Homo sapiens: one gene and its partner. The protein of the gene in region 2 interacts with the protein of the main gene of each other region in a pairwise test. Each region holds a gene or a part of one and is shown on either strand. Other genes may lie near its edges. The genes, in order: CREB5 and KRT85.

Region 1 (2,964 bases), on a different chromosome or scaffold from region 2:
AGTTGTATGGCCAACCCACTGTGAATATGCTGGATTAGTGACCTCAGTTGGGAAGTTGGATGGAAGAGGCAGTGGGAATGTAGTGCTGGTCTGGGAAGGAGAAAATCTGATCTCCTTTTGTCCCTAGATAATGGTGACCCTGAAAAGGTAAGCCTTGGTTTATAAGTCATGAATGAGACTGTTATCGGAAAGGGGTCCCGGTCCAGACCCCAAGAGTGGGTTCTTGAGCTCCTGCAAGAAAGAATTCAGGGCAAATCCGTAAAGTGAAAGCAAGTTTATTAAGAAAGTAAAGGAAAGAAAGAATGGCTACTCCATAGACAGAGCAGCCCCGAGGGCTGCTGGTTGCCCGTTTTTGTGGTTATTTCTTGATGATATGCTAAACAAGGGGTGGATTATTCATGCCTCCCCTTTTTAGACCATATAGGGTAACTTCCTGTCGTTGCCATGGCATTCGTAAACTGTCATGGCGCTGGTGGGAGTGTAGCAGTGAGGACGACCAGAGGTCACTCTTGTCACCATCTTGGTTTTGGTGGGATTTAGCTGGCTTCATTACTGCAAACCGTTTTATCAGAAAGGTCTTTATGACCTGTATCTTGGGCCAACCTATCTCATCCACTGACTTAGAATGCCTTAACCTTCTGGGAATGCAGCCCAGTAGGTCTCAGCCTTATTTTACCCAGCTCCTATTCAAGATGGAGTTGCTCTGGTTCACATGCCTCTGACAAGACTATGTGAGGAATAGATGTCATTACCCCCAACCCCAAATTTCATCATACAAAGGTGACATATATTATTTGCATTTGAGTGCTTTATTATATTGGAATTGCAGTGATATTAACATTTGTACAAATGCACAAAATCTTGTCTCTTCTTGCTAGAAAGAGATGTAAAAATCTGACCTAGTTGAACAGTCTTAATGAACTCATTGTCCATTGGTAACAATAAATGTGTTCACGATGCAACAAAAAGCTTAACACAAAATTAAACATATTAAATGCTGCAGCAAGTATTTACATGTATGTACCCCTTTTTTTCTCCTTCCAATAAGGAAGGTGGTTGCTTTACAAATAGACAAACAAACACAAATGCTTTGCTGTTTACAAATACAAAGAACCCCAAGTCCAGAACTTAAAGTGACAGCACCTTTTTGGGACTTCCTCAGTTAACACTTACTTTACACAGTGCTAAACTTTTTTCTTTTAATTATATTTTTGGACAATATTTATATTCCAATTGTCCTAGAACATTGTATTTGAACTGAGCTATTTTTCTGGGCCTTTTCAGAGGATCCCAAACCCTATGTCCTCTCTAGAGAGAACATTTCAAGCTTATCTGTTCTCCAAGACAGTTCTCAAAGGCAACATTCCTTTCTCTATGAGGCAGATGTGATTTAGCAGAACTTAGAAGGGAAAAAGGTGAGTAGGTTGTATTTTCTACTGGCTGCTGGTTGGGAAGGGTCCTTTCTCTTAAACTCCCTCCACTCAACACAACTGATACCTTTCATTATCTCCTGTAGTGTCTGTGGCATTGGTATTCTAAAGGAGAAAACTAGAATCTAATGAGCTTATTGTGCATAAGATTTTAATGATGTATTTAAAGCTAATTTATTCAGCTTCCACATTCTCAGTCCTGAGGCTAAATTATTCTATTGTAAAATATCCAATCCTATAAAGTTCTATAATATGAAGCTCAATGTAAGAATATCTTAAATGGCTTAGAAGGAGCTTTCTAGATCCTGGCTTCTAATGAGCTAGATATTGTAAGTTGGTCTAAATACAACAGTTGGTAATTATTGATTCCTTTCTGATGACAAGTTGGAAAGGTATCAGAGTGCCACTTAAGAGTATTAATCTTTTAACAAGTGTTGGCAATTTGGCCTTACCCCCCACTTCAGCTGTGGTTAAATAGCTTTTTTAAAAAATAGACAATTTATAAGGAAAAAAATATATAAACACTCTTTAAGCAATTTGGCTACAAGCATTACATCACTGAAAAACTCCACAAGAAATAGTAAAATATTTTGAATGGACATTCACTTTTTCATTTTCACAACATGATGAGCTAGGTTTTTTGTTTTTTAAATTTCTTTGTGTTTGTTTTGGTATTGAATTTTACTTGTAAGTTTATTGCTGCTGTGTCGTCTTATCCTACCTTAGATTATAATTGTGAAATAGAGGTGCTGTCCCTAATTATGTTACAAGGCAACATTGTATTTTTGAGACCTAGGAATGAAATCGATAGGGCCACTGTTCTTTCAGTGGCCTCAGAGAGTCTATGGCTAGGACAACAGTCAGATGTGCACCAGGGTGCACAAAAGAATAAGTCTCCTGGCTTATTCAGGACACTTTGGTTTGGAAGGTGAGAGAAAATTCTTAAGTATAGCTTAGCTGCTGCCTCACATCTGTTGCATAATATAACATTTTTAAAAAACATGCTATGAATAAAGGGATAAAGAGTATAAACCATATAGTGTACTGGCTCTTCTCCTTGGCATTCTTGTAGTAGGCTTCACCTAGGCTGATGTGAGACACAGGTCTCAGCTGTGCTACCAATGGACGCACATAAATGTACCTGGTGCAAATATCTGTAAAGTATTTTAAATGATGCCGCTCAGAGCCTTGGAGGAGGGGTGGGGGGTATTGTAAAGGAGAGCAAAGGCAAGTTTGAGGACAGAGAAGAGGTTAGAAAGAGAATAAGAGAAATACAAAGGGATCAAAAAGCTAAAGTGCAATTTTTAAATATAAATTATTTTAAAAGCAGAAAAGAGATTCTAAATTGCTACTGTTCGCATAGGCACGGTTTTATTCAAATTTAAATGGGTTGTTTCCTTTCCCTTCTCAGATATACTGCATAATGGAGCTTGAATGGCTTAAAGCTACTGCATATTGTTCGGGAAGGGACAAAAAGCACTAAGGGAGCTGAATAGTGCAAGGCTTTCTAGGAAATTGGGGTGGGGTGGAGAGA
Region 2 (4,300 bases):
TAAAGGTAAGCTGTGAAGGACAGGGACATAGAGAGTGCTAGAATTCCACTGGATTTCCTCTCTTCATTCCCCCAGAAGTAGCTCTAAGGCTCACAGGGGTGGAGTCTTAGAGGTGAATCCCAGGAATCTGAAGAAATCTAGGCCCCACTGGATATCTGCTCTGGGTTCCAGGCAGCCTGCTAGAGGAATCTGAAAGAAGCTGTGGCAAGAGGGCTATGGGCAGAGCCTCCCAGCATTCTCTCTGAGTTTCCCCTGAGTCCCCCCAGCTTGCTGCACTCACTTCTTCTTGTAGCCCTCCAGCACCTCCTGCACATGGTTGAGCTCTGAGGCCAGCCTCCCGCTGTCGGCCTCCACGCACTCGGCCTCCCGCCGCAGAGTCTCGATGTAGCCACTGAACAGTGGCTCCAGGTTGCTCTCGCAGCAGCGCTGGTTCTGGTAGAACTGCCACTTGGTCTCCAGCAGCTTGTTCTGCTGCTCCAGGAAGCGCACCTGCCATTCAGGTGGAAAGAAGAAGTCAGAGGGAGCCTGGGGGGAGGCACCTGGTCCCCCACAGTCTCTCTGCCCTCGGGTGCTGGCTGAATGGGCTGAGCCATAAAGCTGAGTGTCTGCGGCTCAAGGGGCCCATTCCCAGGCCCCCAGGGAGGCAGTTGTGGGTGTGAGGGAAAGCAGTCTGACTCAAAGCCAAAGGTCTGTTTCGAGCCCCAGTTTTGATACTTTAGAGAGCAAGTTGTTTAACCTCCTGGGGCTCAGTTTTCTCCTTTCCAAAATGGAGCGAATAGTGTCTGTCTTAGCACTGTTGTGAAGCTTGAACAAGTTAATGCATATCAAGTGCTTAGAACAGTCCCTGACACGTAGTAAATGCTCAGTCTATTTAACTATTATTATAATTACCAGTTGCCCTTCACTTGCTCATTTATGCAACAAACACTTATTAAATATTTACTACTTAGTGCCAAGGCCTGTGGTAAGATATACACATCCATGTCTAATGTCTGTGTCTATGTCTATATCATCTAACTATGCATTCCATTCAATTATCACAGCCCTGTGGGATGTAGATATTACTTACCCCATGTTGCACATGGGGAAATTGAGACCCCCAAGGTGTGAAATGCCCAGCTCATGGTAAGCGATAGTCTTGAGATAGGCATGCTCTGCCTCCCCCTACAGCATGTCTGAGATGCTCGTATACACCCCCTTAGCTCCAAGTTGCTGTCTGATAAGTGGAGACGCTGATACCCACTCCAACCCGTCACTGTGAGGATGGACTCAGATCACTAAAGAAAGAGTGAAAACGTGAAGGTGACTGCCTCTGCCCCCAAACCCTGATCCTAGGCCCCCAAAGCTGCTCCTTCTGCTCTGCTAGAGGCCTGTGGACACAGGAGGAGCCTGTGAAGGAGGCTCCCAGCCTCCCCCGACAAAACTTTCTTGGGAGGCAGCCTCACAGCTATGCAGCGTTCTCCACACTCTGGCTGCATTAGGGGGCCTCCTCCTACCAGCCTGGCCACCTCCCTGTCTGCATTTCAGCCCTCTCTCATGAAGGGGCTGCCAGGCCTGGGTTGGCTGTCACACCTCCTCACCTACCACTGTCCTTGGAAAATAATGATAGTAGCAGCTAACATGTATTGAGTGCTGACTATTTGCCATCATGTTTCATGCATGGACTCATTAATTCCTCACAGGTGGATGAGGCAGTCCTGTTATTCAGCAGAGTAACCTGCCTGGGGTCTCACACTGCTGAGTGATGCAGCAAGGACTTGGGAGAGGCAGCATGGCTGTGGGCATTACCCCAGCCCCTTCACGGGCTGCCTGGCTAGGAGCCACAAGGTCTTTTGGTCTCCCCGTTATCTCCCACTCTTCCAGCACCTGCTGCCCAGTCTGGTTTTTCAGACACAGTTCTGATAGTCCTATGTCGTCTTGGCTCAAGAAACACACACACGCTCACACACATGTACACACTCACATGCATACACACACATATGCTCACACACATGTACACACACACATATACACACCACACACTAACATACGTACAGGCGCACACACCGCTACACACACACACATGTACACACACACACATGCACACACTTTGGATCACAGGCTCAATTTCTAGACCACACCTGGACCTCGTTAAATGCTGCGGGAGTTAAGTGATGGAAACTGACCCTTCCACCTGTATGGGTCTGCACGTCATTCCCTCTGCTGCCTCAAACCGGCAGCCATCCTGTCTCCTCAGCAGACTGGGACCTCCCCAAGGGAGGACAGGGCTGGAGGCTTCTCTGGGCCGTCTCAGGCCTCACCCACCTTGTCGATGAAGGCCGCGAACCTGCTGTTGAGGGACTTGATCTGCTCCTTCTCCTCCTGCTTCACGCACTGTGCGTTGGGGTCGATCTCCAGGTTGAGGGGCGTGAGGAGGCTCTCGTTGACCGACACGGTAGTGATGCATGGGGGGCTGGGTCCGCACACGCCCCCGGAGCGGTAGCCGAAGCTGCGTCCGCAGGAGCCGGCTCGGAAGCCACCTACAGCTATCCGGGGCCCGCAGGAGCCCAGGTTGCAGAGGCTGCGGCTGCCGAAGCCCGTCAGCCCTCGGTAGCAGGACACCCCTCGGTAGGGGGCGGCGCTGATGCAGCAGCGGTTGCCAGTTTTGGGGGCCACAGCTGAGCAGGAGCTGAAGTTCCTGGTGACCCCGCATCCTGAGCTGATCCTGTAGGAGCGGCACGACATCGTGTGAGGCTGAGCAGAGTCTGAGAGGCAGCGGAAGGTGGTGCGGGCGGCAGAGTGCGAGGCTCAGGATCCTTCTGCTCTCTCTGATCCTCCCTGGTCCTTTTATTGGTGGGGAGAGCTGGGGTTGGCTGCATAAAAGGAGTGGAAAGCCATTTTATGTTGTTTATGGGCTTGGGGAGTTTGCCAGCAACTCCCCACGGACTCATCTTAAAGGTGAGCTCAGCAGCGACTCTGGGGCTCCCTGAAGTCTTGAAGATGTTATTAAGGAGACTGCATTTGAACTTTTCATCTTCAAAGCTCGTTTACATACATTAAGTAATTAATTTTCTCACAGTCTTTCTGTGAGATGGCCTCAACCCACACTTGGAGACGGATTTGAACTCCACAACAGCCTGGGGGTGGCTGGGTTTGGGATACAGGCAGGAGCCATTGTCTCAAGGGAGAGGTTGGAGGGTCCTGGGTTAGGTGAGACTTGGGGGATCATTGCATTCATCTATCTGGTTCCACAGAGGACACATTCTCAAGTAAATCATTGCATTTCAGGGGCCAATAGGTCAGGCGAATCCCACCCCATCTAGGCAGCATTGCTTGGAAGGTGGTTCAGGACCAGAGCGGTCATTTTGACCATGCCCGTGCCAGGATAAAAGGCTGGGGCAGATGATCTCTTGGAACCTTCTGGATTCCAGCCCAGAAGGCGCTGGTCCAGAGCTTTCACTTCTCACCCAGCAAAAGTGCAAACCACAGAACTCTCAGTGGCCACAATAATGGCTACTTGCGGATTATGGGGAGACTCCCTCTAGCCACTTTCTTCCATTCGGTCAAAAGGATTGGAGAACTCAACCTTGGGATAACCTGGGGGCTATAAATTTGCTGTGGGCACCTTTGCTTTGCTCTTTAAGAAGAAACAGGTCATGTGAGTCTCCCTTCCCAGACCACCAGCTACAAGAGGTATTCCTTCTGTTGGCCAGCCCTTGAATTGTCATCCCTAGAGGAGTGTTTAGAGACTGCATTGCACAAAGCTGGAAGTGGGATAGTGGTTTATTCTTGTCTAAGGTGGCTATGACTTCTGGCTCCTGGGGGTTCTGGGAGCCCCATCCTTCTAGTTTCTGCTTCCCTGTGTGTCCTTGGGACACTTATTAGGATAACAAGTGCTATTCTTTTAATGTTTATGGAGTACAAACCTTGGGGATGTGGGTCTGCCCCCAGGAAGGTTAGCCAGACACCCAAGTGTTAGGAACTTAAGGAAGAAGAGCCGATGAGCTTCCTCAGAGGGTGACTCCTCCTCCAGGAAGCCTTCCATAACCAAACACTGCCATCATGCTGCTGTTCTCATAAGTCCTTCACGAAATGCCCTGTACTCTGTCCTGCATCTGCTCTAATCTCCACAGCCAGCTGACCTCACCCAGGACCTTCACCCAGGATCAGGCTGATCGATTCCCACCTCACCTCCACATTCCACATTGTTCTTCAGGGCAGGGTAGAGAGACCTTGGCAGCTGGTGGGGGAAGAGCAGGTGGTCTCACCAGCTGACCCTAGAACATATGCAGATCATAATCATCCATGGAAAAGCAACTGC

Evidence for each region.
Region 1: the proteins of KRT85 (region 2) and CREB5 interact in binary tests that used the Homo sapiens proteins (3 or more experiments, as listed by UniProt).

The regions. Positions count from the first base shown.
Region 1 is NC_000007.14:28,823,721-28,826,684, reverse strand, and holds the end of CREB5 (cyclic AMP-responsive element-binding protein 5), read right to left. Parts: 3' UTR 791-2,964; downstream 1-790. UniProt on the Homo sapiens protein: Binds to the cAMP response element and activates transcription.
Region 2 is NC_000012.12:52,364,682-52,368,981, forward strand, and holds the start of KRT85 (keratin, type II cuticular Hb5), read right to left. Parts: upstream 2,801-4,300; 5' UTR 2,725-2,800; coding exon 2,305-2,724; intron 490-2,304; coding exon 281-489; intron 1-280.